2 separate regions of the Homo sapiens genome follow, and region 1 is reported to be linked to region 2. Evidence: microRNA targets listed by miRTarBase, many of them from high-throughput screens and not tested one by one. Region 2 holds a microRNA gene; the other region holds the end of a gene's coding sequence.
The links. The annotated mature microRNA hsa-miR-181b-2-3p reads CUCACUGAUCAAUGAAUGCA and lies in region 2 at 1,546-1,565, shown strand. An mRNA with a match to its seed (bases 2 to 7 or 8) in the 3' UTR can be bound and repressed. Matches are read on the target gene's strand: a 7mer-m8 pairs with bases 2 to 8, a 7mer-A1 pairs with bases 2 to 7 and ends in A, and an 8mer does both.

Region 1: miRTarBase lists INSYN2B as a target of hsa-miR-181b-2-3p. Seed matches in the 3' UTR shown: 7mer-A1 at 2,328-2,334 and 7mer-m8 at 2,345-2,351.

The regions. Positions count from the first base shown.
Region 1 is chr5:169,859,699-169,865,083 of GRCh38, reverse strand. It overlaps INSYN2B (inhibitory synaptic factor family member 2B), which reads left to right. Exons shown (of 4, transcript NM_001129891.3): 4 at 625-3,781. The coding sequence ends at 811. All of the region lies in intron 27 of DOCK2 (dedicator of cytokinesis 2), which reads right to left. Among named protein-coding and RNA genes, the nearest start is that of INSYN2B, 120 kb to the left of the region's middle.
Region 2 is chr9:124,692,218-124,697,602 of GRCh38, forward strand. It overlaps MIR181B2 (microRNA 181b-2), which reads left to right and starts at 1,493; the gene lies at 1,493-1,581. All of the region lies in intron 2 of NR6A1 (nuclear receptor subfamily 6 group A member 1), which reads right to left. All of the region lies in intron 1 of MIR181A2HG (MIR181A2 host gene), which reads left to right. MIR181A2 (microRNA 181a-2) reads left to right here and starts at 225; the gene lies at 225-334. RefSeq lists an enhancer at 2,805-3,350.

The DNA.
Region 1 (5,385 bases), not on the chromosome of region 2:
GATATATCTTGAAGTTGAGATGCAATTCAAAGAGCAAGACGTAATATATTGGTAGAAATTATGTTAATGATGATGATGATAGCGGTAATAGAAGCTAACACATACGGAGGACTTAGCGCACGCCAGGCACTACTCTGAGCATTTCATTTATATTATCTCAGTTTACACACATTAATTCCAAAGAAAGCCTTTGAGATAGGTGCTCTTATTACCCCCATTTTACAGATAATGAAACTGAGCTGTCAGTTTTCTTGTCTGTTCCTCTGCATTATCTCAATTTTTTAATAATGAGACAGTTTTCATGCATAACACATGCCAAAACCCCATTAATGATTAAGAGAGAGACTGGAGCCAATATTTACAGAACACTTGCCATCAGGTCTCACTGACCCTTAATAACATCCCTGTGAGGAAGGCATTACAGGTGCCAATTCAATCACTGAAGAACTAGAGGTTCAGAGAGGTGGCATCACTTTCCCAAGGTCAAAGAGCCAGTAGGTACCTAAGGATCTAGGATTTGATCCCAAAGCTCATGCTCTTCCATATTAGTTGGGGCTGAGAGATGCTTAATCAGTCTGTGCTGATTCGAATTCACTTTCCTTCCTTCCTCTCTGTGTTTTTCAGTGTAGAGTATGATTTTCGGCAGCAGGAAGGCAGGTTCCATGAAGTTTTGCAGAGTCTGGAGGAAGCAGAGCCAGTTGAGGAGGCATCGCCCCCACCAAAGTCCCCAGCAGAACCCCCAGCCCCGGAAAAGCAGGACTTAAGGCGGAAAACCAAGAAGGTGAAAAAGAAATGCTTCTGGTGGATCTGAGCTGGTTGGGACCATCCCCCAGCCCCCCAACTCCACGCACTTCCCTGAGATGGGAAATCCACTGCACTTAAGGCCTGCCCTGCTTCTTTGCAAAGGCCCTGGGCTGTGAGCCCCTTGGCCTGTGAAACAGAAGAGCCTTGGAGCTGATGTAGCCGCTGCTGGACACCTGACCACGATCCTTACCTGAGTGCGTGCGACTGCTTGCTGAGGGCTTCACGGACACTAGAGTGACCGCTTGCCAAGTTCCCTGTCACACTCAGCCAGAACTCATGCTGAGTTTTAAGACCAGATTCCCACCACGAGCAAAACCCCACACTACACCTTCCAACACCTCCAAGATGCCAAGCACTTCCTTCCCATCCTGGGTTCATAAACCCAAAAGAAAAAAATAGTGTTGTGCAGACCCGGAAGGTAGAGGGAGGTTATAGGTTATAAGCAGGTACCATAGAAAAAAATGAGATAAACTGGCAGTTTTCTAAGATATCAGCATACATAATAAGCACAAGAGAAGTGGGCAGGGCATAAAATGCTTATGCAAGATCACCCTGGTGTGTTGGGTTGTTTTCCTTTTTAATTAGCCCCTTGATCCCAAATTAAGGCTCTGTCATCTCATGGTGCATGCACCTTTCTGCCTGTGGCAGAGTCAGGCCACCCCAGGGTATAAACTTGTTGGTGTGGCTGTGCTGGATAAGTGTAATTCAAAGAGGATTTCAGCAGCTGTAGCTGTTCCAGGGCCCACCCTAAACCATCATGCTTCTTCTCTGCCTAGGGCCTGAGACCACCTGGCAAATGGGTGGAATCTGTTTTTGGTGTGAACTTTAAGACTCCATAGTTAACTTACCTGCAATATTTAAAATCATGAGATCCAGCAACCTGTCCATCAGTTACATCTTATGAGTAACATAGATAAGGCTAAGATAAAACACAACACTGTTTCTCATCCCTTCATCCCAGAAACAGCCGTGTAGATAGGTTCAAACATATATTAATCGACACAGTCTCCCTTCCTGGTGACCAGACAATGGTCACCTGATTGAAAAACTAGCAGGACTATGGATGAGGATATAGTTTTTTCTATTTGAGGTTTAAATATCTTTCCATCCCAAAGTCTGAGTTATTCAAGGTCTGGCTCATTCTGTTGACAAGACCTACATACATGTGGATCCAGTCAAACTTGCATGGCTGAACAAACTACTAAAGTAATATAATTAAGTAATTGCTATATACTCTTGTGGATGAGGGGTAGGATGGAAAGGCTCAGATTCCTTCTGGTTGAATTAAAATCTCTATCAGCATGTGGTTAGATTGACATTGCTAGAAAGGGAGCCTGAAACTAAACATACATTAAACGAAGAAGGTATTTTGTAATTCCCTTGGCTGAAGATCCAGTGTCTAAGCTAGAATCTTTGCAGAGCACAGAATCCTGTGTGTTCGTGGGATGTACCTACCCCACTGCAAATTGAGCCTAATTGAGCAAACCACTCCGATGGTTTCACCTTCCCCTGTCATAGTGATGCAGTGAACAAAGCTATTTCAGTGAGAATGAAAGGGAAATTTGGCAAGGAATATCAGCTTGCACTATTTAAGTCTTGGAATGTCATTCAAGATGTTCTTGTTCTGTTTCTAGTGTAATGTTTAAGCCCACAGAATCAGACCGGAATATATAACGTCATGTTAGAATTAAGATAAATACACTTGTCATACTTAAGAAGCCACATTTCAATAAGATATGCTACCACTGGCTAAAAGCCACAGATTTTTTTTTTCCTGTATCCATACGATCAACTGTCAGTTGGCCCCAGCAATGGAAAAGAACAGAATAGAGGATAATCCAATAAAGTGAAATCATTTGGGACCTCTTATGTAATTTTATCTTGTAGTAGAGCTTCCATCTTAATTTGCTTTGCTTACGCTAATTTCATGTGAATTTATATTCTCGGGCATCATGCTAGAATGTAAATAACCCTGTTCCCAGAATTAAGAGATCCAGGCAACCAAGCAGTCTATACCACTAGCCTTTGGCAAATGGCTTAAATTTCCCGGCCTGTTTGTCCATTCTTGAATACAGATAAGAACATATGCTTTCCTACTTTATAAACTCTTAGCACGTTCCACATTATGTGAGCTGAGTGACTCAGAGCTGAGCTGGATTACTGGCCAAAGTTAGCCTGGGAAGATAAAGAGATGTTTGAGGTACCTCACACAAAATTAATAAGCTGATGTGGTCATAGATATGTTTCCAGTTGAGGCCCTCACATGAACCCTTAACTGAATTAAATAAAACTGGGACTAGAAAATGTTGACATTTTCTGCACTTCCCCAACAAAAAAAAAAGAAAAGAAAAGAAAAGAAAAAAATAAATAAAATGTTGACATTTCTAGAAATACAGCCAAACAAGGCTGTACTGATTCTACACCAAAGCACAACACCGCATTGCTTGGGCCACTGACCTGAAACTGGGAAGGAGTTCTCTTCTGAAAAATTGATATTTAAAATCATTATGAGGAAATAGGATTCCATAAACATTTTCCTGATGAACAAAAATGGTCGTCTCTATGTTTAAAACACCACACACACATATACCAAAACTGCATACTCACTTATTCATGTGAAAATCACTGCTTCTTTGTAAAATATTACGTAACATCTACCATGATATTCTACAGAAATGCTGTACTTGAGGTTATCTGGTTTGCTGGAGAGATATTAACTTAGCAAAAATTACTTTTATAAAATTGAAAGGAAAAAGACCAATACATCAACTTAAATTGCAGGAGTTTATGTAGCTGCTTTCTCTGTAGTTTAAAAAGCAATGCATAAATGCATACTCACTATCCTTGGAACTTAATACCAGCTCATCTATAGAGCACCTTCTTAAAGACGATGTACTGATGTAAGGTTTTGTAAATTTCTAAACTGTTTTAAACGGGATATTATCTTTTGCAATAAACTTACATATTTTTTCTAGGTTTTAAGACTCCATTACTAGCTTGGGTTGATTTCAGTTATAAAATGTATGCTTAAGAAGGACACCTCAATGGTCCTAAGGGCAAGTATGGCTTTCATTATAATTGCTTCTATATATTTCTAAGGGAAATAAATAAAGAGCAGATTCAGAACTTAGTGTCACGATGATCACATGAAGCCCCGCGTGTCCCGTGAGTGAGGGAGGCAGCATGAATAAATGGAGAGCTGCTCCCAGCCTCATTCCATGGATGTACAGGCATGATTTGTATCATTATACTCAGACACCTGAACTCTAATTTATCCAGTACTTTTCTTTATTTCCCCCTTAATTTTTTTCCTTAAAAGGCAAATTTATATCGCCAATGTGAAGAAAAACAATATCATGTTCCAAAAATAGAATATGAAATAAAAATATCTTATTAAGTTCTTGCTAAACCCTGTTGCTATTGAGGCTGCTAAGCCTGAGACCAGCTCTCTGTTAAGATGGGAGATTAGCAAATATTCAACACATACGAAAGGCACATTCACACCAAGCCCATTTTCTACTTGACTAAACAGGATGTTTGAGAGAGAATTGAAAAGAAAACAACTTTCCTGTCATGTGATTCAGTATTCCTTTTCCTGCCTTCTCCACGAACCATCTAAAACCAGCTTGGGTTTACACCTGGAGAGTGAGTCTCCCACTTTGGGAAACATCAATTTAGAGAAACAATAACAAAAACAAACCCTGGACATAGAATCAGAAGTCTTGGGTTTGACAGCAGTCTGCTATCTTATTTTTGCTGCATAAACTTGAGCAAGTTGCTTAGTTTCTGTGAGCCTCTGATTCCTCTGATATACCCCCTGCCTCCCAAGAGTGCCTTGACAATGAACTGAGTGACAGCCAAGAACACAATGTAGGGTACACATTGGGCCAGGTGCTCAACAAGCACATATTCAGTCATTTGTGGATTGAAGTAAATTGGGAGAGAGAAAGGAAGATACCTCCGTGAAGCTGCAGTGGTTTTCAGAAACAGGTTTTTCTCGGGGCAAGGGAAGAACACTTTCTGTGGGCACGATGGCTCACACCTGTAATACCAACACTTTGGGAAGCCAAGGTAGGAGGATTGCTTGAGCTCAGGAGTTTGAGACCAACCTGGGCAAAGTAGTGAGACCCCGTCAAACAATTAAAAAATTAGTCAAGAGTGTGGCTCACACCTCTGGTCCCCACTAATCAGGAGGCTGAGGCAGGAGGATAGCTTAAACCCAAGAGGGCTGGAGTTAGCTGTGACCATGCCACTGCACTCCAACCTAGGTGACGGAGCAATAGTCTGTCTCAAAAAAAAAAAAGAAAAAAAAAAAAAAAAAGAAGGATCCACCAGAAACCACGACAGTTAATGTTAAGTAATAAAGTCGCCCATGATTCAAAAGAGCACATGGGCACATAAAATACAGCACAGCACTCCGGGAATTAAAGATTCTTGTTGTGTGGAATCAAATATCCTAGAGGTAAAAGAGACTTTAAGAGCCAGGTCCCTTCCATTTTAAGCACAAGTCAATTAAGGAAGGCTAAATGATTTGTCCAAGGGCTTATAGCAATCCTGTGGGGAAGTAGGTGTTGGGAGCAA
Region 2 (5,385 bases):
ATCACAAAATAATACCATTCAAAGACATTTTCTCAGACATTCATTTGAGTCTGCTTGTACAAATTACTGCACAGTCTATCCCACAGTTCATTAGTTCTCTGCTGCACACAAATTGATTTTATAATTTAAATACTCTCGACTTGAAACCCAGAGAGGAATGTAAGAGCATCCATCAGCGGTGGTCTCACTGCTCACTGGTTCTTGGGATGTGGATGGGAGAATGAAGAAGGGCTATCAGGCCAGCCTTCAGAGGACTCCAAGGAACATTCAACGCTGTCGGTGAGTTTGGGATTTGAAAAAACCACTGACCGTTGACTGTACCTTGGGGTCCTTACAGACGACACTACATTTCCTGAAGCAAAAGAGCAAGCTGTACCTTCACATGTCACATGAGTTCACCAGAAATGGTCCTGCAATCCCCCAAATGTGGTCCAGTGAATTTTATTCCTACTGCTCACTGTTCCTTGCTTTCTGTTGTGTGTTTTATTATTATTTGTTTGTTTTTACAAAAAAAGTGTTTCATTTCAACAAGGTAAGGAGCAGTCCATGATGATATCTAATGTACCTACATGTCTCCTAGATATGCACCATTCTGGTGAGAAACAGGACGTAGCAAGTAAAAATTTATTAAAAATACGTATTTTGTTTTGGAATAAAATCCAGTTAAATAATTACTCCCATTTCTCCCACATCCTCTCAAAATTTTTAATTAGGGGCAAGGGGAGGATTTAATAAGCAAAAATAGCACAAAATTATCCAATTGTGACAGTTCTTATCACATTTCACTTTGAATTATAGTTAATATGGTTAATTTTTGATATCCCAGTTAGAGCATGAGCTATTGCCTTACTAGTGCCCACATATCCCCACATATGCTTATTTAAATGTTTGCTAAATTCAAGCAAAAACTTAGCCCTGGAGTCAGTCAGATCTGGGATGAATCTTGGCTCAAGCCCTTAACTAGTTATTTGACCCCCTAAGCAAGTGTCTCAGTTTTCTCACATATAAAACAGAGGCTAAGAGTACCTATCATGGAGTTTTGAGACTCAATGAGATAATATATAAGGTGCTTTGTACCATTACTAGCCCACAGCAAATGCTCAATATATGTAAGCTGTTATTATTAAACTCCAACATAATCTGCTAATTTACCTCAAAAAAGCACTCATACTTCTCAGTTCAAAACAAAGAGGAAAAGCAGGTCCCTCAGCTGTGGTTTACAGGTACTAATATGCAAGCACTGCCTGTGTGGCGCAGTGCTACCTGTGAGGTTCTCCAAGCACTCCTTCCTTCTCTGAACCACAGCTTCCTCATCTGCAATAACCTCCCAGCTCCAATGTCAATGTTATGGACACCTGTGTGGGCCCTCAATCATGCAGATGGCTGGTTACTAAGGGAGAAGCCAGACACACAGACTTCAAAGAACTGAGATGGAAAAGAAGAGCCAGGAGTCAGCCAGGGAGGGCAAAGGCAACCCCACCAACTGAAAACACTGATGGCTGCACTCAACATTCATTGCTGTCGGTGGGTTTGAGTCTGAATCAACTCACTGATCAATGAATGCAAACTGCGGACCAAACAACCCAAAGGAAGCAAAAGCATGTGCAGAGAGTCGCCTGAGTGCAGCAGCTACTGCTGTGAGTGGGAGCTGCTACTATTTCCAAAACACTAGCTAAAGCTTTTCTTGTTCTCCTTGGTTCTAACATGGAGTAAGTTCTCTAAATTCCTAGTACTTTTCTCCTTTTTCAATAGTCTAGATTTAAGGAAATGATATTTTATAGGAAGAATTAAATACATATCTGGATATCACATCACATTTTAAAAATCAGTACATTCAGAATTTCTAAACAGAATCATATGCTTATTATTTAGAAATTCAAATACAAAAATATACAAAGTAAAAATTGAAAATCCCTTCAATCATCATCTGCAATCCATTTCCTCGGAGGAAAACATGTATAATTATAATAAACTTATTAAGATAATAAATATCATAACTAGAATTTATTTTATATCCTTGAAGACCTTTATCCATACATACACAGATAAATAGCTGTAATTTTGCATGTTTTGGGGGGAGAGTGGCTTAGACAAAAATAAGCTCATTTTTACCTATTGTTCTATAATCTATTTTGTTATTCAGCTATATATCATAGACTTCCACAACAGTCTTTTATGTACTCGTCATTCTTTTAAATGGCTATATAGTATGACTTAATATGAATGTTCTGGTTATTATTCAGATGTACATCAATATTCTCTTTTGACAAAAACTATGAGGCTCATTCATTCTAACCTTTGCAAACCATGTCCCTCAAACAGGAAAAACACCTAAGTGAGATAGAAGATGTACATTTTTCTTAACAAAAAATTTAAATGTAGTATCAACTCTCTAAATCCTGTAACATGAGATAAGCCACTAAATCCCATGTTAAAGAAAGAAAAACAAGGCCCTTGGTCATGAATAATTTATCATACACTTAAGTCTAAGAAGAAGCAGATTCTCATAGCAAAAGTCAAATAAGACAGTAAGAGAAGAGTCTTGTCAAATTAGCCTTGACAATTAAGCAAGCCTTAATTTGACAAGGCTTTCCTGTCAAATTAGGAAGGAGAAGTGATGGGGTAATGAGACAAGAACCAGAAAGAGAAATCAAAGCCAAAAGAAAAATCTAAAGAAAACTATGAGAGTTCAGAGAAAATATCAGGTTCAAGCCAGTGTTTCCCAAACTTCTTGTACACCAGAATCATCTAGAGTTGCTTTTAAAATGGCAAATTCCTGAGCCCTACTCTAGACGAGGTGATTTTGGGTCACTGGAAGCTGGAAGCAAAGTAAATAAAGTTCACTAGCTTAACATCGGCTTCCTGCCCCCATCCCACCACCACATTTCATGTCATCCACTTTTCAACTATTGCCCAACCTTTTGTGTCACCACCTGAAATCGCCACTATTCTGCTGAGTGCAGACAGGTAGAGTCACATTTGTGCTGCTTTTAAGTATCTCCAGACTACATAAAATTTTGCACCATGTTTGGTGGCCAAATATACATCAAATTGTGTCTGATGTTTTATGGAAATGAATGGATTTGGATTTACGCTATCTAAAAAACTAAAACCTACCCAAAGAAATTACCAAAAGGTTTTTTTGTGTGTGTTTTTCTTTCGTTTGTTTGTTTTTTTGAGACAGTCTTGCTCTGTTTCCCAGGCTGGAGTACAGTGATGCGATCTCGGCTCACTGCAACCTCTGCTTCCTGGGTTCAAGTGATTCTCGTGCCTCAGCCTCTCAAGTAGCTGGCCCGCCACCACACCCAGTCAATTTTTGTGTTTTTAGAAGAAATGTGTTTTTAGTAGAGCCATGTTGGCCAGGCTGGTCTCAGACTCCTGACCTCAAGTGATCCGCCCGCCTCGGCCGCCCAAATTGCTGGGATTATAGGCATGAGTCACCGCGCCCGGCCCGAGGGGGTCTTTATAGAAGAGTTTTTTGTGAGACTGGTAGACACACAGAAGGTACTCCACGCAGTCTTGTTTTTCAAGATGCTGTGCATTCTAGGCATTTATTTTTAACCAATTATTTCCAAAATTTCTGAAAACATTAGAAAAGAATGTCTGACACGTACTTTGAAAAATGTACACTTGAACAAGCATGCTATTTATTTACAGACTATTACATAGTCTTTAAATATGCCAATGAAACAATTATATATTTCATTAAACCAAATCCAAGTTTTCTCTTGGATAAAACTAAGTACTACAAGAAGGGAGACAATTATGTAAGTTAAAGGGTGTTTTCTGCAGATAGGCCTCAAAATAAATACCTGTAACAGAAAAATTACATGGCATGTATAGGGGACAGGAAGAGAATAGTCCAGAGACTGTATTAGGGAGTCATAAGGAATGGCACTGAAAAGGTAAAAGGACATATTACAGAAGGACTTGTGAGCAAGGCGCAAAGTCAATTAGTCCAACAGAGAGCCGTTTTAAATGCTAAACTCAGCAAGGAGACAATGAAAGCAAGACTGGGAAGAGTCACTAAGCAGATGAAGTGAGGGGAAGAAAAGAGAAAAAAGAGAACTTTCTTGCACAAGTTAGCAGGGGTAGAACTGAGTCAACAGGAATGGAATGAAAGGAAAGGTTATCTCAAAAAGGCATACTTTGGCTTTTGTTTTTCAAAATAAAAGCCTACTGGCTGACCCCCTTCCATCATCCTGTTCGGTGTATAGCCTCACAGATATTTCAAGATACTTAAAATGCATGTATTTATACTTAGAGAAAATAACATCACAAATTATACATAATGTTCTCTAGCTTTTTTTTTTTTTTTTTTTTGAGATGGAGTCTCGCTCTGTCACCCAGGCTGGAGTGCAGTGGTGTGATCTCGGCTCACTGCAACCTCTGCCTCCTGGGTTCAACTGATCCTCTCACCTCAGCCTCCAAAGTAGCTGGAACAACAGGCACTCACCACCACGCCTGGCTAATTTTTGTATTTCTAGTAGAGATGTGGTTTTGACATGTTGGCCAAGCTGTCTCGAATTCCTGACCTCAAGTGATCCGCCCACCTCAGCCTCCCAAGTAGCTGGGACCACAGGCACGTACCACCATGCCTGGATAATTTTTTGTATTTTTAGTAGAGACAGGATTTTGCCATGTGGCCCAGGCTGGTCTCAAACTCCTGACCTCAAGTGATCCACCCGCCTCAGCCTCCCAAAGTGTTGGGATTATAGGCGTGAGCCACCGCACCCGGCCTGAAATCTTTCTTCACTTAAAATATTGTGGCCATCTTTCCATATCGATATATCAGAACCACCTTCCAAAGAACTGGCTCAAACAGAAAAGAAAGCAAAGAGTCAAGAATGATGCCAAACTTTCCTGACTAGATTAGGAGCCTGGAGTGTACTAAGAAAGAAATGGGCAATTTCACAATGGAAGAAAGAGGATTCCACTTTTGGAACAGATATCAGAACAAGGAATGCACATTTATGATTCATAAGCATGGATCTGAGAAAGAATGATCTAAGTGCAGAAAGAAAAAGGTAACAAATACTTATTGGACACCTAGTGTATACCTGGACTGCAACAGGAGCCAGGAGACATGGAAGAAACAAAAGTATATAACGTAAAAGGCAGAACTAATTCTAACGAACAAATAGCTAATTGCAAGTGTGAAGAGCTCTGCAGAAGATAAAAGTAAGGTACTATGAGAGCAAATAATAGGAGGGACCAATCCAGTCTTGGTGGTAAGAAGGGTCAGGGAACTTCCTTGAGGAAGTGATGTATAAGTAAAGACTTCAAGGGTATGTGTAACTACCTTGGTGAAATAGAGTAAGCATTCCAAGCATAGAGAATGGATGGTATGTTGTGTAGGCCAAAGAAGCAGTGTTTTTACAAAAC